4 linked regions of the Homo sapiens genome follow. The protein of the gene in region 4 interacts with the protein of the main gene of each other region in a pairwise test. Each region holds a gene or a part of one and is shown on either strand. Other genes may lie near its edges. The genes, in order: PDCD4, IPO11, DPPA4 and EIF4A2.

The links.
Region 1: the proteins of EIF4A2 (region 4) and PDCD4 interact in binary tests that used the Homo sapiens proteins (3 or more experiments, as listed by UniProt).
Region 2: the proteins of EIF4A2 (region 4) and IPO11 interact in binary tests that used the Homo sapiens proteins (3 or more experiments, as listed by UniProt).
Region 3: the proteins of EIF4A2 (region 4) and DPPA4 interact in binary tests that used the Homo sapiens proteins (3 or more experiments, as listed by UniProt).

The regions. Positions count from the first base shown.
Region 1 is NC_000010.11:110,881,911-110,888,937, reverse strand, and holds part of PDCD4 (programmed cell death protein 4), read right to left. Parts: intron 5,936-7,027; coding exon 5,841-5,935; intron 3,686-5,840; coding exon 3,572-3,685; intron 1,274-3,571; coding exon 1,052-1,273; intron 1-1,051. UniProt on the Homo sapiens protein: Inhibits translation initiation and cap-dependent translation. May excert its function by hindering the interaction between EIF4A1 and EIF4G. Inhibits the helicase activity of EIF4A. Modulates the activation of JUN kinase.
Region 2 is NC_000005.10:62,415,745-62,422,771, reverse strand, and holds part of IPO11 (importin-11), read right to left. Parts: intron 3,889-7,027; exon of another isoform or gene 3,759-3,888; coding exon of another isoform or gene 3,645-3,758; intron 1-3,644. UniProt on the Homo sapiens protein: Functions in nuclear protein import as nuclear transport receptor. Serves as receptor for nuclear localization signals (NLS) in cargo substrates.
Region 3 is NC_000003.12:109,327,547-109,334,573, forward strand, and holds part of DPPA4 (developmental pluripotency-associated protein 4), read right to left. Parts: intron 6,448-7,027; coding exon 6,324-6,447; intron 4,486-6,323; coding exon 4,325-4,485; intron 4,239-4,324; coding exon 4,188-4,238; intron 3,267-4,187; coding exon 2,978-3,266; intron 1,543-2,977; coding exon 1,344-1,542; intron 479-1,343; coding exon 442-478; 3' UTR 1-441. UniProt on the Homo sapiens protein: May be involved in the maintenance of active epigenetic status of target genes. May inhibit differentiation of embryonic cells into a primitive ectoderm lineage.
Region 4 is NC_000003.12:186,779,605-186,786,594, reverse strand, and holds the start of EIF4A2 (eukaryotic initiation factor 4A-II), read right to left. Parts: upstream 3,019-6,990; 5' UTR 2,985-3,018; coding exon 2,956-2,984; intron 2,164-2,955; coding exon 2,118-2,163; intron 2,032-2,117; coding exon 1,899-2,031; intron 1,800-1,898; exon of another isoform or gene 1,730-1,799; intron 1,634-1,729; coding exon 1,494-1,633; intron 713-1,493; coding exon 544-712; intron 432-543; coding exon 322-431; intron 273-321; exon of another isoform or gene 148-272; intron 94-147; coding exon 1-93. UniProt on the Homo sapiens protein: ATP-dependent RNA helicase which is a subunit of the eIF4F complex involved in cap recognition and is required for mRNA binding to ribosome.

The sequences.
Region 1 (7,027 bases), on a different chromosome or scaffold from region 4:
TAAAACAAAACAAAAAAAAAGGACTAGGTTCTCTCAAAAACTAATCAAAGGAATTTATCTTGTGGAGAAAAAAAGTTGTATAGAAATAGTTGAAAGTATGTTCACAGCATTACTTATTATAAAAACTGGAAATTGGTGTCCAAAAATAAAGGTATGGTTAAATGGTATACACATAAAATGGTATACTATGTGGCCACAGGGAAAGATATTTACCATATTTTATGGTATGAGAAAAATCAAGTTTATAAAATAGCATAATGGTATGATTCCATTTTTTTAATTTTAAAAAATTAAGGATTTATAGAAGCCATACATTGATATATACCCACAGAAAGGAGAATGGAAAACTTAACACCAGTAGCAGTTTTTGCTGGCCTTTCTTCTTTCTGGCTTTTATTTTTCAAAAATTCTACAATAAATATAAACTTATGTAATCATTTTCTTAAAGTATGTGTATTGGTATAAAAGGAAAAAATGTCTGCATTAGAATCACCACTTAATATCTCATACCGAGTATTGTCTGTCATTAAGTTTAACAGAAACAGCATTTAGGAACTGACATGCCTATATTCTATTTCTAAATTAATGTTTTAAGTAAAGTGATTTTACCTTGATTAAAAACTTTTGACAATAGCAACAATTTCACATTTTCAAAGCTACAAAAGGGAAGAGTCTTATTTATGACTTCTTATAATAAACATTAGTGAAGCATTCAATCATAACCTACATTTTTTAAAAATCTTAGCTAATAAAACAACTACATATAACAAAGACTATATATATGGCAAAAAAAAAAAAATTACCTAAAAACTATGCAGATCATAGGGGAAAAGTACAAGATAACATTAAATTTATAGCATGATGAAGACCATGTTTAAAAAACAAAAGAACTAGGAAAAAATACATCAAAATGCTAGCGGAATATTTCGGTGTCGTAGGAAATGTTGGCCATCCCCTTCCATCTACTAAAATTTCCTAGGAGTATACATTATTTCCACAATTAGGAATATAGTAGTGGGAGGGAATGAACAAAAAGAAGAATCATACAAACCTGTGGTGCTCTAGGAGTATCCAGTGCTAATTCAGGTAGATCTTTCAACAATTTATCAAATGATTTTTCCACATCAGTTGTGCTCATTACTGTCCCACAAAGGTCAGAAAGAAGCTTAGATGTCATCTCTCTATGACTAGCCTTCCCCTCCAATGCTAAGGATACTGCCAACACTGGTACTCCACTTTTCATTTCACCAAGATTTAAATCTCTTAACATTTCCTGTTCAAAAAAATAATTTAAAAACATTTTAAAAGTGTATCACTACCTATAGTTCAATAAAATTTTATTTTTGAAAAATTGAGCTTTTATCTATATATCTCTACGTCTCACTCTTTGGAAATAATCAAAAGACCCAGTCATGTTTTAGAAGATAGGATAAACACACCTTTCCCTGTGCATAAATCAGACATTGATCCACTTTGTCAAGCTTTAACTGCCTTAACATCGCTAAATTCAAAAATGTGAAATACCTTTAAAATACTGTCATGGGTCACGACACAGATACATTCTGAGAAATTCACCATTTAGGTGATTTCATCAGTGTGCAATCATTATAGAGTGTACTTACACAAACCTAAATGGCAGAGCCTACATGTAGGCTACATGGTATAACCTATTGCTCCCGGGCTACAAACCTGTATAGTATGTTACTATACTGAATACTGTAGACAACTGTTAACACAGTGGTTACCTATCTAAACACAGAAAAGATACAGTAAAAAGAGTATTATATGAGACCAAAGGTATATATGCAGTCTGTCATGGAAACGTCATTATGCAGCTCATGGCTAGTTCATTAAACTACATAATATTGCTGAGATTGGTATTAGGAGTTAACTAACCTGCCTTACAATCTATTATTACTATAAATATTGTTTTATGAGAATTTGTGGAAAAATTCATTTTAGATTATCATAAGCTATTTATATTCTACTTTTCTTCAAAGACTTCTCTTGAAATAAAAATTCACTTCACACTTTTGTATCAAGTTTAAAATGAGATCTTAAACAACTGTTTTTAAATGGGATTATTGGTTTAAGATTCTGGGGTAAATTTAAAATTTCCTTTTAGAAATATAATAGCTGCAGCTAATACTTATTGACTAATGTATCAGGCATTATAATAGCCTCTTTAGTTATATTATCTTATTTAATACTCAAATAGCCCTTTGAGTATTAAATTATCACACCTATCATACTCAAAGGAGAGAGGGCACACAGCTGGAGTAGCCAAACTGAAAGTGGAATAAAGGCAGTCTGACTCTAGAAGCTAAGTTCTAATTCAGTTAGAGTGCCCTCCTCTTTAATGAAAGTTTTCTTAGAATCTTTAAATCATGATATACTACTAAGAGAGTGCCAAAACTATTTTCACAGCCACGTAACTGGTGTCCTTGTTAGTAATCTCTTCTCACTGACTGCATTTCATCTTCCTTGACCGCACTTTAACAACTAATCCACTACCCTCAAACACAATACTCCTCTTTCCTGGAAAACTATCTTAACTGGCGAACTCCTCAACATCCTTCAGACAGCAGAGAATCATCTCTACTATTACTCTCTATTTTATGCTTTCCAAACAGTACTCAGTTAACAGATACATAGTATACAATTGATCTTATGCTAGGTAGATTAACAAGATTTCAACAGTCCCTGCCCTCATAGGACTCATGGAAACTTTTCCTCTATAACAGAACGTTTCACGTATTTTAATAATCTGTTTACATATCATTTCTTTCACTTGACTGGGCTTCAAAAGGGCAAGAATCACCTATTACAAATTCCTCCAGATGGTATGCACTGAACAAATATTTGTCTTATATTCAAATCCTACAAATCCAAAGATATCAAACCTCACAGTATCAGACAAATCATAAAAGTCCAGTCTAAATTTTAAGAATCTAAATGATCAAAGTCTTCTAAAGAGTTACAATTGTATTACTTTAATTTGATAATCCTAACTAGACCAATGGTTTTATTTTATCCTAGATTTACTTTATGAACAAATCATGATTATTCTCATGGCTTCTGTATATTCTTTTTCAAATCTTTATTATTTGTGGGGTTTTTTTTGGACAAAGTACAAAAAGATTTTATCCTACTTCTGAACATACGTGAAATAAATGTCAAAAAAATGAAACTATGTCAGGCATTCTTAACTGAGATCCCTGAAGAGGTTTCGGGGGGCGTCTAGAAGTGCCCTCAAACTGCTAAAATTATATTTTATAAATTATAAAAACAGATTTTATAAATTCATATACATTACAAATTATAATTATAAAAATTATAAAAATATTGTGTCATTTTTCAGAGAACAAAATGGCACACAGCTCTCATCACATCCCAAATATATAACTGTTTTAATGTAATGAGATTTTATTCCATTTCTTAGAAATTCACTTATGCAAAAGAAAATGATTAAATTTATTCAGTGACCCAAGATCATTGTAGATGTATTTTGCTTATAAAAGATGTCTTCTCTCCTATATTAAATAAATTATACTTGCAACTTTAAACCTACCGCAACTTCATTAGTATCTCCATGCTCAAAATATTCCTGTATGATTGGTGTTAAAGTCTTCTCAAATGCCCTTTCATCCAAAGGCAAAACTACAGTTTCATAAACACAGTTCTCCTTTGAGGGGAAAAGGGAGTAAGAGTTATAAAAAACAAAATGCAAATAAACAAGTGAAATTGTTGTACAATTTTATATTCTAAGTGGTTAATAATCCCCACTTAGCACAAGACAAAGACATGCTACATACATTGATCGCATATAAAAATAGAATCTAGGCCAGGCAAGGAGACTCATACCTATAATCCCAACACTTTGGGAGGCAAAGGCGGGAGGTTCACTTGAGGCCTGGAGTTCAATACTAGCCTGGGAAACATAGCAAGACCCTGTCTCTACAAAAAAGTTTTAAAAATTAGCCAGACATGGTAGCTTGCCCCTGTAGTCCTAGCTACTCAGGAAGCTGAGGCAGAAGGATCTCTTAAGCCCAAGAGTTCGAGGCTGCAGTGAGCTATAATTCATCACTGCACTCCAGCCTGGACAACAAAGCTAAAAAATAATAATAATAAATCATAATAAAAATAGTAGAATTTATATGTCACTGCTCTTTTACAAAATCAGAATACAATAAGCCAATATATAGATTAGAATCATTAACCACAGCAAATACATAATTTGCTCCCAACCCCCATGTCTTCTGTTAATTTTTTCTCTCAAAATTTTTATGTCTCTCTCAAAACCAATCTTTTAGTAATCAAAAAGTTTCATGATGGCTTCCTATCATAAATGGTGTTTTAATTAAAATTTCACTTTAAAAAAAAATGAAGCAGGAACCAAAGCCTTCACGATTAGCATTATTATAATAAAAAGTATAACACAAAGATCAATGTTGTAGTGACAGAAAAAAAATCTCTAAGGAAAAAAGCACTGTTCAATTGAAATTTCAAAAAGAAAATTAACATCCATCATCAAACCATTCCTCTCTCCCCATGCTAAAAAAGCTCTGAAATGTAGTGCCCCCTTATCTACAAGGGGTATGTTCCAAGCCCCGTCCGAGGATGCCTTAAACCACAGATAGTACCGAACCCAATAAATACTGTTTTCTCAATCCGATAACCTAGACAGCTACCATGTGACGAATGCACGAGTAGTGTATACATTGCGGATACACGCTGGACAACGGAATGGCTCACATCCTGGGCAGGATGAGGTGGATGAAGCTGGACAGCAGGAGATCTCATCACACTACTCAGAATGGCATGCAATTTAAAACTTATGAATTACTTCTGAAAGTTTCCACTCAATATTTTCAAACCACATTGGACCATGGGTAACTGAAACTGCGGAAAGTGAAACCACGGATAAGAGGGGACTGCTATATTTACAACTTGTGACTGGCTTCAGCCTAAAAACATATACTTGAAAGATTAATACATTTTTAGCAAAGATTCTACAGTACTTGAATCCTACTAGTTTCATATTTTTCATGTTCTCTTAGAAATATTTCCATATCTATTAGTTAAAACACTTAAATACATACATACAACACACAATAAAAACAACCTAACACATACTCTTAACGTTTTCCTGTCTAAAATTTCCATCACCGTGTCTCACCTTGTGCAAAGACAAATTTTCAAAAAACATAATCAAAACATTTGGGATTTGCTTCAAAATAATCCAAAACAGGGTGGGGCAAAGGGGCCAATAGAAGACGGAGAGTAAATGGAATTAAACAAGACTGCCTATGAGTTTGTAATTATTTAAGTTTGTAAAGCTAAGAGAGGAGTACAAGCAGATTATACTATTCTACTTTAAATTTTTTCCATTAAAAAAAATAAAAAATTCACTTCACAATCTATTAAAAATTTACATTTTCAGCATTATCCCTAAAAGAAAGATGCGCATGTCCCCAAAACAAAATGTATTATATAGTTACCATTCTAAACAGTAATATTTAAAAGGAATCTAATATCTGTAACTCATAATATTCAAAAGAAGATATTCTCAATTATCATTACTATAGAAACAAACTATATTAACAGAATTTACTGAAAAATGGACAACTTAATAATCCTAAGTGAATTTCTAAAGAGCTATTTTTGACTCACTACAGAAACCAAGTGAAAGTTATGCATGTATTACTGTCAGTTTACTTGGTTTCCTAATCCAAAACATTTATACATATGATTTGACACATGTATGAGTAAACTACAAACATGAAGTCAAAAAAGTTCATAAACATTTTAAATATTATGAAAAAGCAAAGCACTGATACCTGGTCATCATCATAGTTAGGATCTTTCACATCCACCTCCTCCACATCATACACCTGTCCAGGTGTACCCCAGACACCTTTGCCTCCTGCACCACCTGAAAAAGTTTAGCATTGAGAAAGAAAAAACACAAAATTCATCAATTTGTTGAAATCTAAAATAAAATGTTCCGATGTTAAACAACAGCTAAAAAAAAATTGTATTTAACGTGTTAGTTTTTTTCCAGTTTTCTTCCCCTACTGGTTTTTGTTCAGACCACTCTTTCAATATTTCCAAAAACATTAAGTTAAAATAGCTTATGAAGTTAAAAACTAAAAAAGCAGATGCTTTAAAATAAAAGCAAAAACAAATAAAGATAAAAAAATAGCTATATTGAGGACCTCAAAGGAGATGATATTGCAGCTGAGCTCTAAATTTTATTCGACATTTCTTTGAGACTAAGACAAAAAGAAACATTCTGGGCCGGTAAAGCTTAGCATAGAAAACTCAACAAGGGAAAAATTATTTAACAAAAAAGGACAGTAACCACCATCAAATATTTTAAGGTCAAATACAGTACTCTTTAAATATTAAAGTACACATTAAACCATACAACTAGCAATATGTTATAAATATAGAAAAGAATTCTAACTGCTTTTAAGCATTAACAGCCCTGAAAATTCTGTTTTCTAAATACAAAACAACCAAAAGAAGCTTAACAATTCCAATTTTCAAAGTTGCTTTTCTACATCAACTTACTGAAATGTTTTAAGGACTAATGTACTACACTATTTTTTAAAGAACCTTTACAATGTCACCAACATTTCTGTTTTTGGAGGTTTTTATTTTGTACCAAGTATATCCTTGCCATCAGACCAAAACAGAATCTGACAACCAGGTTTCATTTTGATATAAAACATGATTGCAGAGGCATTTAACAAAACTAATTTTTGACAGATCACAAAAACATTTTACAAGAAACCTAGGCTATAAATTGAAGTTCCCACCATTCAGAAGGTGATGAAATCGTCAGAAAACTCTTATTCAACAAATATTTGCCTACAGTGTACTAGTCACTATTTCGGGTACTAGAGAAACAGCAGTGAAACAGACCAATCTACTACAGAACCCAAAATAAAGAGCTAAAGAGAACTCACCGTGAGATCTAGGAAAACATTAAAATTCAGATCTAGACGTTATCAATCAAATG
Region 2 (7,027 bases), on a different chromosome or scaffold from region 4:
AGACAGGGGAGGCAGACCTGTGAGAGGAAGACCTGTCCGAAAAACTTGAGTATTTCTGTCTCACCGGGAGTTTTTAGTAAAATGGCACTGATAAACTGCAATAAGTCTCTTGCCTGTTTGGTATATACAAGAGTTCCCCGTGACTAATCTCCCCCTAATAAGAAAAGTTATACATTATCCTAAACAATATTGACACCCCCTACCTGATCAGTGCCCAGCTGTGAGGTACCAACTACTGTCAACCATCACCCTCTGGTGTCTCCTTAGCTGAAAAACAAAAATACATGTCTGTACAAAACCCACTAAGGAACAGCAGTTATGCTTATTGCTTTTAAAGGTCCTTCTCTGGCTGGGCAGTGGCTCACACCTGTAATCCCAGCACTTTTGGAGGCCGAGGCAGGCAGATCACCTGAGGTCAGGAGTTTGAGACCAGCCTGGCCAACATGGTGAAACCCCATTTCTACTAAAAACACAAAAATTAGCTGAGCATGGTGGTGGGCACCTATAATCCCAGCTACTAGGGAGGCTGAGGCAGGAGAACTGCTTGAACCCAGGAGGTGGAGGTTGCAGTGAGCCAAGATGGTGTCACTGCACTCCAGCCTGGGCAACAAGCAAGATTCCATCTCAAAAAATAAATAAATAAAGTTCCTTCTTGGATATGAAAAAAAATAGGAAGGAAAAGCTATAAAACTGATTTTGATTAAGGCACTGAATAGAGATAACAACACAGCCTAGATTAAATTTAACAGACTATAATTTATAACTAGCAGTTAGGCAAAACTTTTTGCTGAGTGTAAGAGATCATCAGTCCTCTCTCCAAATATAGACATCTTCGATTGGTAGTTTCCATTTACTGGTTGAAGACATCACTGTCTATAAAGCTGTATCTTATAAGAATCTCATTCTTGCTATAAAGAGCTCAGCCTGTCATTGTATTTATAAAAACCCATTTGTTCAAACATGCATGTGCTGTATGCCAAGTAATAATCCCACAGTTAATCACTATTCTACATTTTATCATTAAAATAATTTTTCTCTCAGTTGTGAGTCCATATAAGTTAACAAGTAAATAAATATAATTTTCCTATCACCTTGGAGCCACCCATATCAGTTCTCTACACAGTTTAAGTATTTTGTTTTACTGACCAAGACACTGTGGCCAAAAGATAAGGAGATAAACTGACTTCTCTAAGGTCACAGGCTCATTAGTGACATTTCTAGAACTTTAAATGTAAGTCTCCTGTCCCCACCCAGTACTCCCGAAAGATTAAACACTTTTACTTTTGTTCAGTGCTGTCCATTAATATCTCAAGTGAAATTAACTGGGAATTTTTAGCTTTAGACTTGAGAAAGAACAAAAATACATCAAGTTCACAGCCTATCTGCCTAATGAATTATACTACATCAGAACTGAAGACTGAAATTGATGGAGTCATTGAAGATACCCTACACAAGGTTAACAAGGTGAAGATTAAGAGAAGAAATGTTATTAATACATAACTAAAACAAAGGTGTATTATACAGAATATACAAGGAACCCTTGTGAATCAACAAGACAAATATATAAGAAAAGTGAACAAAGGGTGTAAGCAGAAAATATATAGAAAAGAAGAGCTAAATGTTTAATTAATATCAGAAGAGATGCTATCTCACTGGTTATCAGGGATTTAAAATCCAAACAGTGAAAAACTACTTTATGATCAGACTAGCAAAAATTACAAAGTCCAAAAATATTCAATGCTGGCAAGAATGCATGGAAACAGAAACTCTTAAACACTGCTACTGGGAATATCTATTAATACAACTTTGGAGAGCTATCTAGCTGTCTCTAATGAAATTGAGTATATATTTTGTGTATTCTATGACCAGGACACACAGAGGGTCACACACCACATAAAAATGGCGGCTCACGCCTGTAATCCAACACTTTGGAAGGCTGAGGCGGGTGGATCACTTAGAGTGCAGGAGTTCAAGACCAGCCTGGGCAACATGGAGAAACCCCATCACTACTAAAAAAACAAAAAGTTAGCTGGGCATGGTGGGGCACACCTGTAGTCCCAGCTACTCAGGAGGCTGAGATGGGAGAATCACCTGAGCCCAGGAGGTCAAGGCTGCAGTGAGCCACGATCGTGCCACTGCACTCCAGCCTGGGTGACAGAGTGAGACCCTGTCTCAAAAAAAAAAAAAAAAAGTTTCAGTCAGATATGGACCACATATATACGACAGTGATCCCGTAAGATTTTAATGGAGCTTTAAAATTCCTATCACATAGTGACATCATAGCCATCCTAAGTCGTAGTAAATCACATTACTCACACGTTAGTGGTGATGCTGGTGTAAACTAACCTACTGCACTGCCATTTGTATAAAAGCAGAGCACATACAATTAGGTACAGTACATAACACTTGAAAGTGATAATAAGCAACTATGTTACTGGTTTATGCATTTACTACATTATACTTTTTTTTTTTTTTTTTTTGAGACGGAGCTTCACTCTTGTTGCCCAGGCTGGAGTGCAGTGGTACGATCTTGGCTCACTGAAACCTCCATCGCCCGGGTTCAAGCAATTCTCCTGCCTCAGCCTCCCAAGTAGCTGGGATTACAGGTGTGTGCCACCACGCCTGGCTAATTTTTGTATTTTTTTAGTAGAAACAGGGTATCACCATGTTGGCCAGGCTGGTCTCAATCTCCTGACCCCGTGATCCACCCGCCTTGGCCTCCCGAAGTGCTAAGATTACAGGCGTGAGCCACCACGCCCAGCCTACTTTTTTTAAGAGTTACGATCTCTGTCACCTGAGGTAGAGAGCAATGCCGGCATCATAATTCACTACAACGTTGAACTCTTGGGCTCAAGCAGTCATTCCACCTCAGCCTCCTGAATAGTTGAGACTTGGGACTACAGGGATGAGCCATCATGCCATGCTAATTTTTTTACTTTTTGTAGAGATGGGGTCTGGCTATGTTGCCCTGGCTGATTTCAAACCCCAGACCTCAAGCAATCCTCCCACCTCAGCTTCCCTAAACCCTGGGATTACAGAAGTGAGCCACCAAGCCCCACTACTATACTTCTTATCATAATTTTACAATGTACTACTCCTATTAAAAAAAAAAGTTAACTGTAAAACAGCCTCAGACAGGTCCTTCAGGAGATAATTCAGAAGAAGTCATTGCTATCATAGAAGATGACAGCTCCATGAATGTTATTGCCCCCGAAGACCTTCCAGTGAGACAAGATGTGGAGGTGGAAGACAGAGATATTGATGATCCTGACCTTGTGTGTACCTGAGTTAATGTGTGTGTTTGCGTCTGTTTTAAACAACGTAGAACTACACAATGTATTTGTGTTTTAAGCTAAGTGTTACTGCAACAGAGACAAAAAGTTTATAAACTAAAAGTTACAATAAGCTAAGATTATTGAAGAAAAAAATTTCTTAATAAATTTATTTTAGCCTAAGTGTACAATAATGCCCTAGGCCTTCACTTTCACTCACCACTCACTCACTGATTCATCCAAACCAATTTCCAGTCCTCCAAGCTCCATTCGAGGTAAGTGCCCTGTACAGATGTACCATTTTTTACTTCTACACTGTATTTTTACAGTACCTTTCTAAGTTTAGACATGTTTAAACACACAAATACTTACCATTTTGTGACAACTGCTTACAGTATTCAGTGCAGTAACATGCTGTACAGGCTTATAGCCTAGATACAATAAGCTATATACCACATAGCCCAAGTGTATAATAGGCTGTACCATCTAGGTTTGTTCATATGATGTTCATAGAACAACAAAATTGCCTAACGACCCATTTCTCAGGATGTATCCCAGCCTTAAGCAACTCGTGACTGTATCTTCTATGACCCAGCAGTTTCACACCTGGTGCTATAATCACAGAAACCCCTGCACAGGCATATAAGAATAAGGAGACAAAGGACTAGGTTGTCTGCATGACCTAGTTATCTATATTAACAGAGACTTGGAGACAATACGTGAACATCTTTAGTGAAATATGTATAAAATGTATCTTATCCCTTGTACAATTTGTTCCCTCTGGCTGGAAAGCTCTGGTCTCTAGATAAAAGCATGTCTTGCTCTTTGACAGCATTCCATTCTGCTCAAGTTGTCCTCTATTTAAAGAGGTCTCCACTAACTGCCAATCTAAAAGGGCTCACTCCTCAACCAAGAATCTCTATGTTCCCGATATCCTTAATTTTTCTGCATAATGCTATTAACTATATGAATGCTGTTCATAGCACTATACTGTTAATAGCTTACTGTACTGGAAACACTTACATTTTAAACTATATGATATGTGTTGGCTGGGTGCAGTGGCTCATGCCTGTAATCCCAATACTTTAGAAGGCCGAGGCAGGTGGATCACCTGAGGTCAGGAGTTTGAGATCAGCCTGACCAACATACTCTACTAAAAATACAAAATTAGCCAGGCATGGTGGCGCACGTCTGTAATCCCAGCTACTCAGGAGGCTGAGGCAGAAGAATCACTTGAACCCAGAAGGCGGAGGTCGCAGTGAGCCGAGATGGTGCCACTGCACTCCAGCTTGGTCAATAAGAGTGAAACTCTCTCTCAAAGAAAAAAAAAAAAAAACTAGGCAGGCGTGGGCATGGTAGTGCATGCCTGTAATCCCAGCTACTCGGAAAGCTGCAGCAGGAGAATCACTCGAACTTGGGAGGCAGAGGTTGCGGTGAGACGAGATTGCACCATTGCACTTTAGCCTGGGCTACGAGTGAAATTCTGTCTCAGAAATAAATAAATAAATAATGGCTAGTTGGAGAGTTGGAAATAAAATAATTAGATAGTTGGAGAGTTGGAGGAGGGGTTACACATAAGTTAATAAGGGGAAAGAATTAAGATTTTGGGCTTTTCCAACTGATTGGTGCCTGCATGGCTCATAGGAGGAAAACAATGTCAGGAAGGTTGAAATACACAACGTTTTTGACATGAATGTCAAGTATTTTAAGACAACTACATATGTCAGCGTTGAAGAGAGACCTGTGCTAAAAAGCCAGATTTGGGAGTCATCAAAATAGAGGCAATAGTTGAAGTCACAAATGAGACCATTCATGAAGAGTGTGCATTGAAGTCCTTATTTCCTAAACTACGTAGTTTGGATTTTTATCTGAAGGTTTTCAGAAGAGAGCAGGGTAGTGCCTCAGAGTCAAACATCTAAAGTGGTCAGAGAAAAGAGAAAAATAACCAACAAAAGACTGGCTAAAACCTAAGAAGGAAATAAGGAAAATATGGTGTCCCAGAAGTATAAGAAGAAAATTTCAAGAACGAACAAGTAGTTAAAATGGCAAATGATTAAACAGATTCCATTAGATTTAGCAACAAAGATATCAATGGTGATCACCACTACATCAAATTCAGTGACTGCTATGGACTGTCAGCCTTCAAAATACCAAAAAAAAAAAAAAAAAAAAAAAAAATTAACCAATAAGGAGGTGAAGAAAATGAATATAGAGAATTCTTTCAAGAAACTTAAAGGAAATAAGCTGGGCATGGTGGCACACACAAGTAGTACCAGCTACTCATGAGATTGAAGTGGCAGGATCACTTGAGCCCTGAAGTTTGAGGCCAGCCTAGGTAACAAGAGACCTTGTCTCTTAAAAAAAGGAGAAAAAAAAAAACTAAGAAAAATAATTATAGATAAAGCTGAAGAGGAATCTAAGAATCTAAGGTAAGGAGCGTATATTTCAGATAAGACTTGATTTGAGGCCAGGCACGGTGGCTCACCCATATAATTCCAATACACTTCAGGAGGCCAAGGCCAGTGGATCGCTTGAACCCAGGAGTTTGAGACAAGCCTGGGCAATGTGGCAAAACCCCATCTCTACAAAAAAAAATTCAAAAATTAGCCAAGCATGGTGGCCTGCGCCTCACCTGTGGTCCCAGCCACCAGAGAGGCTGAGGTGGAGGGATCGCTTGAGCCTGGGAGGCAGAAGTTGCAGTGAGCCAAGATAGCACCACTGCACTCAAGCCTGAGAAACAGAGTGAGTACTCTGTCTCAAAAAAAAAAAATAAAAAAAAAAAAAGATAATAAGAGACTTGGGTATGCTTAAATCCTTGTTAAGTTAGTACTAGTTGAAAAAGGAGTAACTGAATGTTATGGATTGAACTGTGTTCCTTAAAAATTCATGTTGAAGCCCTAACCCCCGAACCCTCAGTATTTGGAGATAAAGTTTTTAAGGTGATTAAGATAAGATGAGGTTGTTAGGGTAAGGCCCTAAACCAATATAACTGATGCCATTATAAGAAAAAGAAACAGCAGGCCAGTGCAGTGGCTCACGCCTGTAATCCCAGCACTTTGGGAGGCTGAGGCGGGCAGATCACCTGAGGTCAGGAGTTTGAGACCAGCCTGGACAACATGGTGAAACCCGTCTCTACTAAAAATATAAAAATTAGCCGGGCGTGGTGGTGAGCGCCTGTAATCCCAACTACTCAGGAGGCTGAGGCAGGAGAATCGCTTGAACCGGGAAGGCGGAGGTTGCAGTGACCTGAGAGCGGGCCACTGCACTCCAGCCTGGGAGACAAGAGCGAGGCTCCGTCTCAAAAAAAAAAAAAAAAAGAAAAGAAAAAAAAAGAAAACAGAAAGATACAGCAGAGGTGCATGTACACACAGGATGACCACGAGAAAAGGCAGCAAGAAGGTGGCCATCTGCAAGCCAAGGATGGAGGTCTTACAGGAAACCAATCTTATCTGCACCTTGATCTTAGACTTCCACTCTCCAGAACTGTGAGAAAAAAAATTCTCTTGTTTAAGCTACCCAATATAAGGTATTTTGTTGTGGCGGCCCTAGCAAACACATGAAGGAAATATTGCCCGTAAGGAGAAAAAACTCAGAATATCATTAGAGATGGACAGATAGAGGTCTTCATGTTTGCAGGTGAAACAGAACAGAAAGCAATGAAGTTCCCACTCAATGTATTTCATTTCCTCTATGAAGCAGAAGGGAACTTTATCCAGTAAAGAGTAAAGAGGGGGCCGGGCGTGGTGGCTCAAGCC
Region 3 (7,027 bases), about 77 Mb from region 4:
CTGTACCTAGCTACTCAGGAGGCTGAGGCAGGAGAATCATTTGAACCCAGGAGGCGGAGATTGCACTGAACTGAGATTGCACCACTGCACTCCAGCCTGGGCAACAGTGAGACACTGTCTCAAAATACAACAAAAAAAAGCTGCTGCTGAAGTCATGTCTATTTTAGAAAAGTAGTATGAATGAGTTTTTCTACATATTAACTACAATTTATGGTAATTTGTGAAATGTTTTTCCATTTTTAAATGTAAGAGTCTCTATCTCCACTCACAAAGCAACAGGCACTGCTAGGGGTCTTAGGCTAACATCTGCCACCCCACCAGTCTGCATGGCCCATAAACAGGTGCAGAGGACCAGAGTTCACCTGTCAGCAGCACCGCAGAATCCAACTCTCCAGCTTTTCTGCCATTAATTACCATAGATGTGGCCTTTTTCCTGATATTCTATTCCCATTGGAGGCTTTTTATTAAGACCTTGTTCCTATAAAGCAAATAAAGTATTTGTTTTTAAAAAGAATGAAGAAATATTAAAAATAGCCAAGAAACCCGCTGCTGGAATGCTGTTGAAATTGCCCTTACAACTTTAGGATCATAGGTAGCAAGCCTGTGATCCTGTCATTCAAGAATGAAGATCATCAGCCAAGTTATCATGCCTCTGTAATATATTCCCTGACTTGTGCCAACCATGGACAGGAGGCCTTGGAGGGGCTCTTTTCATCACTTTCCCAAAAACCTAAGTATGTCATTAAAGGACTACCCAAAGTGACCTCCTCAGTTCTCTTCAACTTGCTTGGCATAGAGAGATTATCAAAACACTCACAGCAAAAAGTAGGATATCCCAAAGAAGGAAAAGCCAATCACACATTCACATACTTCCTCCTGTGGGAGATGGTCTTGCTACGTTTCCCAGGCTGAGAAATTACCGATCTCTCCTTTCCATCTAGTCGATTCTTCCCTTAACTTAAGGAACCTCTTCTTTGATATTCATCATGTTATTCTAGGTGTTTACATGCCCACCATCCCTGTTAAGACTGTAGGCTACTTAAAGGAAGAGGTTTTTTGCTAGTCATTATTTCTGTGTAGAGCATACACTTTGAATATAGTAATTATATAATGTTTGTTGCTCCCAGAATTCTGTGTCTCCAGGTAGAAGCATTAAACCCTGACACATAAATGCTTTCTTTTTCCTGGGGATAAACTTAACTGAGTAATAATTTTCTTGAAACTCTTTACTGACAATTTGAGCTTGAAATACCTGGCTATTTAAGATTAATGTATATCTTAACTTTCTGCAATTGAAAATCCGGCACCCACTTTTAGTTTGTAGAAAAGCATCAGGTAATTACCTGTGAACACATTTGGGGCACAACATATTGTCTTCAAGGTGCGGGGGTGGAAAATTGGAGGCAGGAAGCAAGAAGAGTGCACTCACTCTCCCTTCTTGCTTTTCTGGAACCCAGGCTTGACCAGCATGAAACTGCAGGTGAACCCAACCATCTGTGTCTGCAGGGAGACTTTTCCCATGGACCACACACCACCTGACACCTGGCAATGGCAAAGGAAAGAGACAGGTACCCGCACACCAGGATGACATACTGATGTAAGACTGCATTATGGCCCATCACCCTTGATTGACCAGCTCCAAGATGTGAACCCTGAAATCCTAACTTAACCTCTTCTCTATTCTGTTCTCCTTTAGAAAAGCATACAAGCTGGGCGCAGTGGCTCACGCTTGTAATCCCAGCACTTTGGGAGGCCGAGGCGGGTGGATCACGAGGTCAGGAGATCGAGACCATCCTGGCTAACACAGTGAAACCCCGTTTCTACTAAAAATACAAAAAATTAGCCAGGCGTGGTGGCGGGGGCCTGTAGTCCCAGCTACTCAGGAGGCTGAGGCAGGAGAATGGCGTGAACCCGGGAGGCGGTGCTTGCAGTGAGCCAAGATTGCACCACTGCACTCCAGCCTGGGTGACAGAGCGAGACTCCATATCAAAAGCAAAACAAAACAAAAAGCATACAAGACAGTTCCTGTTAAAACTTAAAAATCTAGTTGGAAGTAGTATAGTTGTAGGTGGGCAGATGGTAGAAAGACTAACCCAGAGTGTCTGGAAAGGGCTTCATGAAATAAGCTCAGGGGTCTCAGCTCTTAACACACATTGGATTATGCTAAGCAGTTTGTCTTCTTTTGTTGTACTTTCTGTAATTCTTCCAACATATAAGGTAGGTATTACCCATTTTACAATGAAAACGCTGGGAAATATTTTAAATAACTTATTAATGCCATTCTGGGGCTCAGTTGCAGGCAATTAATTTTAGACCTTGCCTTTAATTTAAATTGCTTAAAGGGTAAAGAAAGAAAACCAGACTGCTATCCCCTTCTGATGCCATCAATAATTTAGAGCAGTGGTTCTCAAACTGTGGTCCCCAGACCAGCATCCTTAGTACTGCCTGGGAAACTGTTAGAGATGCAAACTCTTGCCAGGTACGGTGGCTCACGCCTGTAATCCCAGCACTTTGGGAGGCCAAGGTGGGAGGATCATCTGAGGTCGGGAGTTCGAGACCAGCCTGACCAACATGGAGAAACCCCATCTCTACTAAAAAGACAACATTAGCCGGGCATGGTGGCACATGCCTGTAATCCCAGCTACTCAGGAAGGCTGAGGCAGGAGAATTGCTTGAACCTGGGAGGTGGAGGTTGCGGTGAGCTGAGATCGCGCCACTGCACTCTAGCCTGGGCAACAAGGGAGAAACTGTCTCAAAAAAAAAAAAAAAAAAAAAAAAAAAAAAAGGAAAAAAAAAAAAGAAATGCAAATAAATGCTCAGGTCCTGCCCTAGACCTGCACCAGAAACTCTGTGGGCAGGGTCCAGGAATCACCGGCCCTCAAAGGGATTTTGATATACCCTAAAATGTACCAGTGATTAATATCTACTAAGCTTATTTCCCCATTGGACCAGAATAAGCTCTTCATGTTGCGCTTACCAGAGGCCTCTTGTGGAGATTCCACTGCCTCTGGTGTCCTCGCCCTGGCTGAAATTCTCGCCCAGGAGGCCAGCAAAGCCTCTGGGGCAGAAGTTGTCACCACAACTGTATTAACTCCCTCAAGGAGAGCAGTGGAATTTTCCAGGGCAGGCGGCTCCCCCACAGGAGGAAGAGCCACTTCAGGAGGATGTGTCTCAGAACTTTGCAGGGACGTTTCCCCCTTTTCCACCTTTAATTTTTTTTGCAATGATTTCCGGATTTTGGCCTCTTTTGCTGTGCTAGGAAAATCCTACAAAAAGGGTTAAATAATAAAGATAAAAATACAGATTAAAATTCTAACAAAAATGGCCTAAGGAGCTCTTGATCAAATACAAAGTTTCACTTAGGAGGACTAGGTTCAAGAGATCTATTGTACAAGTTGGTAACTATACATAGTTAATAACAATGTACTGTCTTCTTGAAAATTGCTCAGTTGGCCACCCAGTGGCTCAGGTCTGTAATCCCAGCACTTTGGGAGGCCAAGGTGGGTGAAACACTTGAGGTCAGGAGTTCGAGACCAGCCTGGCCAACATGGTGAAATCCCGTCTCTACTAAAAATACAAAAATTATCCAGGCATGGTGGCTCATGCTTGTAATCTCAGCTACTCCAGGGGCTGAGACAGGGGCATCACTTGAACCAGGGAGGCAGAGGTTGCAGCCTGAACTGCAGCCTAAGTGACAGAGGGAGACTCTGTCTCAAAAAAAAAAAAAAAAAAAAAAAAGAAAGAAAAGAAAAGAAAAGAAATGAAAAGAAAAAAATAGAAAAAAAGAAAATTGCTGGCCAGGCACAGTGGTTCACGCCTGTAATCCCAGCACTTTGGGAGGCCGAAGTGGGTGGATCACCTGAGGCAGGCGCCTGTAATCCGAGCTACTCTGGAGGCTGAGGCAGGAGAATTGCTTGAACCCGGGAAGTGAAGGTTGCAGTGAGCCGAGATGGTGCCACTGCACTCCAGCCTGGGTGACAGTGCAAGACTCTGTCTCAAAAAAAAAAAAAAAAAAAAAAAAGAAAGAAAGAAAGAAAAAAAAGAGAAGTAGAGATGGGAAATATTGTTCTTTCTTAGAACTAGGGGTGGAGGAACAAGGTGAGGCTAAGACAGTTCCTTTACTCACTTTTGAGGCTACAATAGGTAATTAGGATAAGCATTGAAACGTCCATCCTTTAAAAAGTTACCTTTTGATTTGGGTAGGCAAAGGCACACAGGCGCTTATATGCATCCAATTTCTAAGACAATAGAAAACTGAGTTAGTAAGGCAAATAAGGTTCCTACCCTTCCTCCCAGCAGCACCGTCCCCAGCCTGGGACCTCACCTGGCCTTTGGAGCTCAGCTTCAATTGTTGGCACCAGGCCCGCAGAATGTCCCGGTGAATCAGATTAACAGGTGGCAGTTTAGAAGGTAATGGAGGGATTGGTATCTTCTTCTGAGGTCTGGGGTTGTCAGTGTGCTCTGCCTTTTTCTTAGGGCAGAGCACTGAAGCAGAATGGAATCAAATGAGTAGTAATTATCTTTGTGTAGCTTTTCTGAATTTCAAAAGTAAAATCACTTTTTTTTTCTTTTTTGAGACAGAATCTTGCTCTGTCGCCCGGCTGGAGTGCAGTGGCGCGATCTTGGCTCCCTGCAACCTCCGCCTCGTGGGTTCAAGTGATTCTCCTGCCTCAGCCTCCTGAGTAGCTGGGATTACAGACGCCCACCACCACGCCCGGCTAATTTTTTGTATTTTTAGTGGAGATGGGGTTTCACCATGTTGGCCAAGCTGGTCTCGAACTCCTGACCTTGTGATCTGCCCACCTAGGCCTCCCAAAGTTCTGAGATTACAGGCCTAAGCCACCGCGCCCAGCCTAAAATCACTTTTAGTTAATAGTCCAATCCCTCTCAAACCTAGGATTTACCACTTCTAAAACCCAGTTTTATTCCTAAATTGCCCCACTACTGAGGTACACTTGCTCCTTTGTGAGCTCCTTAATCCACAGAATCCAGGTGGTGGCATCGGAGGTTGCACTTCCATCCCAGGGGAATTACCGCTGTCTTAGACTTGAGATCATACTCAGTGGTGTCCTCTACCCCCAGAGCAAAATCAACACCTGACAATGCTACACAGGCAACCACTAATACCCTTAATTCTGCCAGCCCACCCTAGGTCAGGGAAGCACTCTGGTTTCATAGCAGGTATGTTTCCTTAGCTCTGCTGTGTTTCTGTTCATCCCGCTTCTGCACCTCACATACCTTGTCTTCATTCAGTAAAGATTTCTGGCTGGGCGCAGTGGCTCACACTGTAATCCCAGCACTTTGGGAGGCCGAGGTGGGTGGATAACCTGAGGTCAGGAGTTGGAGATCAGCATGGTCAACATGGTGAAACGCCGTCTCTACTTAAAAAATTAGCTGGGCGTGGTGGCACATGCCTGTAATCCCAGCTACTTGGGAGGCTGAGGCAGGAGAACTGTTTGAACCCGGGAGGCAGAGGTTGTAGTGGGCCGGGATCGTGCCATAAAAATTTCTAAGGCTGGGCATGGTGCCTCACACCTGTAACCCCAGCACTTTAGGAGGCCAAGGCAGACGATCACTTGAGGCCAAGAGTTTGCAATCAGCCTGGCCAATATGGTGAAACCCTGTCTCTACTAAAAATACAAAAATCAGCCAGGCATGGTGGCACACGCCTGCAATCCTAGCTAACTTGGGAGGCTGAGACAGGAGAATTGCTTGAACTCGGGAGGCACAGGTTGCAGGGAGCTGAGATGGTGCCACCACACTCCAGCCTGGATGACAGAGCAACACCCTGTCTTGGTGTCTCAAAAAAAAAAAAAAAAAAAAAAAAAAAAAACCAGCCTGTAATGACACTAATAGTAGGGTTTACTCTGTACATATTACTTCTCAGGCATAGTCTAAGTGCTTCACTTAACTACTCTATGTAAATTTTAACACTCCATTCCCACCGCTTAATAAAGGTAGATATTGTCCTAACTTATTTTTAGAATAGGAAGTCCGGTTTCAAGAATGGATCTTCAAATTTACAGCTGTCTGTTCCCAAATCATTGCACACTGAAATCCTTAACTCCAAGTAGCAAGTGAAGGAAAAAATGATCAGCAGAACCAAATATGCTGTGGAAGTCTGAAGATAGGAAGGGATCAGTTAGAGCAGTGGTGACCAAAAGATGCTTCAGGAAGGTAACAGTTTAAGCTTGGCTTCCATGAAGTGCAGGATTTGCACAATACATGATGGAAATTTCTTCCCTGGTTTTTCTTCTTCAGAAAAATTCCTCTGGCTTCTAAGACCCGAGAAGGTGGGATTTGAGAATTTGAAGACCTCTTACCTTTACTGCCTTTGATAGACATTTTTTCTTTGGTTCTCTTTGCTGATGTTCCTGGCAAAGCAATTGAATTTGGTTGATTAGAAGCCTGCTGATCCTCTTCCCTCGACTTCTCTGTGGAGGTCCACTGGGGAACAGAGGAGCTGGTCAGTCATTCCTCTAGTGTCCAAACCACACATACACTACCTGCCTCAAGATAACTCACTTCTAAGGCACCAACGCAGTTACTGGACTCCACTGGCAGTGTGGATTCTCCTCTGGGTATCATCTTAATACTCAGTTTCATTTACAAGACTGGGAAACAATGATGGAAAAAAAGGGAGGAAGCCAGTTTGAAAGCACATGAAAAGACAGATACAAACAAGAGTAGAAGAAAACAGCTCTGCCTTGAGGGGAAAAAGCGCTTAGGTAGGCTCACGCCTGTAGTCTGAGTGCTATAGGAGGCCTAGGCAAGAGGATTGCTTGAGTCCAGTAACTGGATACCAGCCTGAGCAACAACATAGTGAAACCTTGCCTCTACATAAGGAAACAAAATTAGCTGAGCATGGTGGTGTGTGCGTGTAGTCCAGCTACTCGAGACTGAGATAGGAGGATTGCTTGAGCCAGGGAGGTAGGTAGAGGCTGCACCACTGCACTCCAGCCTGGGTGACAGAATGAGACTGTCTCAAAAAAAAAAAAGAGGCCCTTAACTCACTTACTATATTCCA
Region 4 (6,990 bases):
TTCCTTTTTCACCAGAATTCGAATTGGATCTCTCATGAATTTTTTGGTCACTTCCAACACATCAGTTGGCATTGTGGCAGAAAGCAACACAACCTTAAAAAGAGAAAATTATGTTGTAGCACAACTTACACATTAATACCCAAAGGAAAATGTCTGAAGCCAAGCGTCTCTGTCTTACTACGGAATGAAGGTAGACAGAGTTATGCATCAAGTGCTTTAAGCAGGGGGAACGACAACAAAACACATCAGTTGTATTGTAACAGTACCTGCATTAAATAAACCCCATCTCTACCTTTAAGAGGGGGGTGAAGTAATGCTTACCTGAATACTTGTGTTTAGTTTTTGGAAAATCTCATAGATTTGATCCTTAAAACCACGGCTCAACATTTCATCTGCTTCATCCAAAACAAACATTTTGATCCATTTTGGAGCTGTTAGAAACAAAGTCATACTGTCATTTCTAGATCTACTCAGTGATACAATTTGACTTTTCAACTATGTTAACAGTTTTAAAAAAAATACTCTCTTAAAGACAATACTTACAAAGGTATCTTCTGTTTAACATATCAAACACTCTCCCGGGTGTACCAACAACAATATGTGGTGCTTCAGCCTGCAGTTTTTGCATTTCATTTCGAACATTTGTTCCACCAATGCAGGCATGACAAGTGGCTCCCATATAGTCTCCAAGTGCCAGAATTACCTTTTGGATCTAAAACCCAAGCCTTAATTATTATTCCGCAGAACTCCAGGATCAATGACTAATTTTTAAAGCATAAAGGCAAATATAATCTGGTCTGCCAACAGCTTTTATGCATGCACAGCACAAAACTACTTCCAAGCTTAAAATGCAGACGACCTAACTGCTGCAAGGTAAAATTCCCTTAATGTCTTTCTTATGCCTTGTCAAACTTGGGATGCTGCTGCTCCACGCATCAGCTAGACAATCCAAGAATAACGTTTCCTACATTATTCTTCACTGTAGGTAGGGAGTACGTAGTGAAATTTATGTTCTGTAATTACAGCTAGGGCAAATGATTTTTTTCCCCCAGAGGGTATTGTGCCTTATATAATCCTGACCTCAATAAAGCCTACAGCTTTATTAGGAAGGTTTACTTCAAAGCCAATATAGCAGTGAGCTTTGAAAACATAGCATGCAACAGATGCATCACGAACTACGGAGACAGTCAAATGGTAACATGTCACTGCAGTTTTCATGTTGCACAACTGCATTCAAACTTAAAAAATGGGGACAGATCTAGTACATCCAAGAGAGCGCTTCGGATTCTCAATCTATTAGTATACAACCCTACAAACCATACCTGCATACCCAGTTCTTTTAAAACTTTCAACAAAAACTCCCTGCATGCATGGACAATTAAAAGGAGGGATCTGGTAGGACCAATTTATACTAAGTTTTAAATTCTTCACAGTTGTGAAACCTGAAACCTATGCAACACGCAAGCAGTTTTTTTGAACTACACTATCAATACCTGTTGAGCCAGTTCTCTGGTGGGGGCCAATACTAGTGCTTGGGTCTCCTTGAACTCAATCTCCAACTGTTGCAGGATGGAAATAGCAAATGTGGCTGTCTTGCCAGTACCTGACTGAGCTTGAGCAATCACATCATACCCTAAAAAAAGTAGGATACACATTTACCGATCCCACATCAAATTGTCACTTCTACTTCACACCATGTATTCCATTTGGAACATTATGCCCAAATAATCAAGTGATCAGCAATGAGTATTCTCTTCATTTCAGGTCAGTCCCGAAAGATGATTGCCATCATTTCACTTTAAGGAATACAAACAGGTGCTAGTCCCCCAGAGGTTACTTTCCCTTTTATGGTTCATGTCTATGTAGAACAATTTCCTAAAAATGCCAGTTTCTTTTACCTTTAATACAGGGAATAATAGCTCTCTGCTGAATAGCGGAAGGCTTCTCAAAACCGTAAGCATAGATGCCACGAAGGAGAGACTCCTTTAAATTCATATCATCAAAGTTATCAACAATCTCATTCCAGTTGCTCTGTAAGTTAGAAAAAATAATGCACGCATAAATGAGATGAACACACTCACCTTTCCAAAGCTTCAAGATCCACAACCGTTTCTTACCTCGATGACACCATCGGGGTCCATTCCCTCTGGGCCGCCATGTTCTCTGCTGACAAGAATACTGCAGTCAGACACCCCTTCCAGGCCACCTCAACTGCACCTTAAGCGCATAGCCCTTTGCAACCCGTCTCAGCACGTTAGCCTCCCCTGCACAAGCTAAAGCAGCAGCCTCAGGGCGAATATCCACACTGTGCGCCTTCCCTAAAGGTTGGGGCCTGCGGATGCCCGGAAAGGCAGCCCCCCAGGCCCGAGCGCATGGCGATCCCGTTTCAACTGCGGAGCGTCTCGCGAGAGCTCGGAGCGCCGAACTCCGCCCCCAACAATGCGCAAGCCGGGTGATTGACGCGGGCGGAGCGGCCTGGCGAGGGCGATGCCAACGGTTCACCGGCACCGGTCCTGTCCCGTCGCCTCCGCGCCGTGGCCGAGTGGAGACCGCTGCCTCCAACCCTTCCCCAAGTAAAGCCTAGGACCCTCCCCCAACTCGTGTGGATGACCGAAAATAAAGCTTCGGGTCCTGGTTACAGTGTACCGAACTCGGACTGCGCCACGGCTTTTTACTCCATGTTTCCCGTGCTCTACACTGGGAAGGAAAGCAGCCGAAGTTTCGTAATGTCTTAGAGAGGAAAAACGCCCTTTAGCCACTGCTTTCGCACCACCGTCCTATCTCCCCACAATCCGGGCCCTACCCATCATGGAAGCTTCTGGAAGGGCACAGGAGTGCTGTACCCTAAGAAAACGTCCATTAATTTAGAGTTTTTGCCTCCGTGCCATCCACTATCATCTCCCCTGGCGCCCTATGACCTTCACTACAGACCGCGACCGCCAACAGACTGCATACCTGTTATAATCCGCGGAGCCACCAGACATGATCCGAAAAACCACTCAGCGCCCGACTGAAAAGACAGCGGCGCCCAACCACCCGTTTTTTATAGGCTCGTGGCCGGAACCCGTTTCTTGCGGAGGAATTTTCTCGCCGTGCTTCGGTCAGCTACAAAATTGTGATCCTGGGGTCGTTACCTCGGATAAAATCCTAAGCAAGTTGGTAGAAAAACCCAAATGTGGTAATTTCTCGATATTACAGGGTCGCTGGAAATCCTAGGGCCCGGGGTTGGGTTGGGACTCTTTACCTCGCGGCGGAAGAATATAGCTGCGGAGTTAGTTAAACCTCGCTTTCCCCGCCCGCCCTGCTCCTACGGGGTTTCCGCGTCCCTGACGCAGAGGCGGGCCGGGGGAGCCGCGCCGGAGCCGGAGGCGGAAACCGGAGATGCTGTTCGTCGGGCGGCCGGGGCTTCCCGCGGGTGACAGGTCCCGGCTCGCGGCTCGCTGCCGGCACTCAGGTGCGGGAGGGGAACTCGGTTATTCCGCTTGCTCCCACCGCTGTTTAATTCCACAATGAAGACCTGCCTGGCATTTAGCCCGACCGTTAACATCCATTCAGATCTTGGAAACGTAAAATTCCTGCTAGGGAAAATGTCGGCCACCCAGCGAGTCCCGGGAAGTCCGGTTTACCGGTACATTTTGCAGCGCGAGAAGGAAAAATGGAGTGTCATTTGCAGATGTCTCTGGAGTGGCCAATTCTATTCTCATATCATTTCCGGTCTCTCGCTTTCTTTTTAAGAGTGTTACTGATTTTAACCTAACAGGTGTGAGGAATGCCTGAAAAAAATCATAAACTTTTGCAAATGGATAGAAACTAAGCAGTAATTTTCCTTGGAACGCACGAATTTAAATGGACGCTTTGGCAGATACAGCTCTGTGCCGCTTTGGGACTACATCGGTTTTGATTCCGTCTATATTGGTCATTTTTTAAAGGCTGTAGACTTTGCCGATATATAGTGAAATGTTGATTTATTGAAATTCAGAGCAATAATATCCTTGCTGCGTAAACTGCACGGGTCTTTAAGCTCCAGACGTTTTCAATTAGCCCCATCTCAGGTCTCTCGACAAAAACAAAAAACAATATATGTAGTCATTTAACTTTAAAATACAACCCTACCCATGGTGCAAAATATCATCGAGACTATCAGGGTAACATTTTCTCATATTTCAGAAGGCCAACTTAAAGAATCATTACTGGGAAAGCTGACTCAATTTTCTATATTATAGAAGATATTCGGTTCTAAATACTACTTTTTTAATACAAAAATTATTTATTTATTTGAAAATTCTTATCGTGCCAGGAACTAGGACAAAGATTAAGAATACCAAGATGGCAAAGTGGGCCAGGCCCTCAGTCCAGTGGTACTGCTCCTCATTCATCCCTCTGTAATGTTCGAAATCCAGATTTGAGGTGATGCCAGATATTTTCTGAGAATGATGGTCGTCAGACATCCTTGTTGTCTCATCCAAAATCTACTAAAAATATCCTGAGATCTAAGAAATTGAAAAAATACTAAATCGAAAAAGTGACCAACCGTTTGGTTTCACTTGAGCCTTAGGGTGAAAACAATTGATCATAGGGTGATACCAATCAACAATTAACACTTAATCGTTGGTTGTTTTCTTTAGGATTAGCACTACACTAGATGGTGTAGGATTTTCAAGTCTCTTAAGAGGAAATAAAGGCTAAACTCTATGGTATAGGTTTACAAGTGCTAAGTAAGTTTCAAGGTAAGAAAACTTCAAATACAGTCAAAATCCACACCCACACTGCCTGTAACCTTACAGTGTATTCCTAATAAATGCAGTGATTACCACATTTGCGTGTGCTTACTAAATAGTAAATAACATTTGTAACTAATAAATGAATTAAAGATCAAAACGTATACTTTAACAAAGTTTTGCATATCAACACAGAGCGTGCTCTTTTAAATTTAAGTGATTCTGCTTACCTGGAATCTGAAATAAGATAGCCTTCTCAGTGAACTATAAATGCTTCTTTGTCAACCTTTAGTGTTTGAAATCATTTATACTGCAAATAATCCTAAAAGTCAGATTATTTCCCTATCTAAGCCAACTAAGGTAGTTTAGTTTTGCTCTTCAAGAGCCTCAGCTGACAATTCTAAAGCTATCTAGCAACCAGAGAAGCAAAGAATTAGTACAAATCTGTCAGTGCTACATGGAAAAACAATAACAAAACCTTAAAAGAATATGCTTTCAGACGGGCGCGGTGGCTCATGCCTGTAATCGCAGCACTTTGGGATGCCAAGATGGGCAGATCACGAGGTCAGGAGATCAAGACCATCCTGGCCAACATGACGAAACCCTGTCTCTACTAAAAGTACAAAAATTAGCTGGGTGTGGTGGTGTGCGCCTGTAGTCCCAGCTACTCCGGAGGCTGAGGCAGGAGAATCGCTTGAACACGGGAGGCGGAGATTGCACTCCAGCCTGGGTGACAGAGCAAGACTCTGTCTAAAAATAAATAAATAATAAAAAATATGCTTTGTGTTGATAGTGACATCTTCCTATAAAAAGTACCATGTACTCTCATCATTCAGGGCGCATTTGTATGCCATCTTGAGATTCTTACATTATTTTGAACCCATCAGTTGATTTTAAGTGATAGCTGCACATTTAAAGCGGTGTCTAGATAATCTATTGATATATAGACATTTGTTAAGGTATGTGTTTTGGATCTAATTATTACGTATTAATGTTGTTATTTAGTAATAATAAAGTATAAAGCACAAAGTATATAGTACATGCTGTCCTTACATCTGTAATTTCAGTGTTTAAAAATAACTGGGCCAGGCCCGGCGGCTCACGCCTGTAATCCCAGCACTTTGGGAAGCTAAGCCAGGTGGATCACGAGGTCAGCAGATTGAGACCATCCTTGCTAACATGGTGAAAGCCCATCTCTACTAAAAATATAAAAAATTAGCTGGGTGTGGTGGCATGTACCTGTAGTCCCAGCTACTCAGGAGGCTGAGGCATGAGAATCACTTGAACCCGGGAGGTGGAGATTGCAGTGAACAGAGATCGCGCCACTGCATTCCAGCCTGGATGACAGAGTAAGACTCCACCTTAAAAAAAAACAAAAAAACAAAAAAAAAACACTGCCCAGAGCTGGATAGAGATGGTGGTGCTACTCACCTCTTTTTCTTTTTCTTTTCCTTTTTTTCTTTTTTGGCAAACCCAGGATAATCTCTGTAACCTCTTTTTATTACACAGTTTCTGAGGAAATTAGAGGCTAGGTTCTGCTTGCCTGTGACCCCTGACGCAATTTGGAGGGTTGAACTTACTGCCATGTTCTTACACTATAACTTAAAAAACATTTGTGGTTGGGCATGGTGGCTCACGCCTGTGATCCCAGCACTTTGGGAGGCTGAGGCAAGCCGAACAATTGAGATTAGGAGTTCCAGACCAGCCTGGCGAACACGGAGAAATCCAGTCTCTACTAAAAATAAAAAAATTAGGCTAGGCATGGTGGCTCATGCCTAATCCCAACACTTTGGGAGGCCGAGGCGGGCGGGTCACTTGAGGTCAGGAGTTCGTGACCAGTCTGGCCAACCTGGTGAAACTCCCTTTCTACTAAAAATACAAAAATCAGTCTGATGTGGTAGTGTGCTCCTGTAATCCCAGCTACTCAGGAGGCTGAGGCAGGAGAATTGCTTGAACCTGGGAGGCGGAGGTTGCAGTGAGCCAAGATCACGCCACTGCACTCTAGCCCGGGCGACAGAGCAAGACTCCGTCTCGGTGGGGATAAAATACAAAAATTAGCCGGTTGTGTTGGCGCACACCTGTAATCCCAGCTACTCAGGCAGGAGAATTGCTTGAATTCGGGAGGCGGAGGTTGCAGTGAGCTGAGATCCCGCCACTGCACTCCAACCTAGGCGATGGAGAAAGATTATGTCTCAAAATAATAATGATAATAATTTGCATCAAGATAGGTAAAGATATTAACAGAGTTGAAGAAAATGGAGAAAACTGAGGA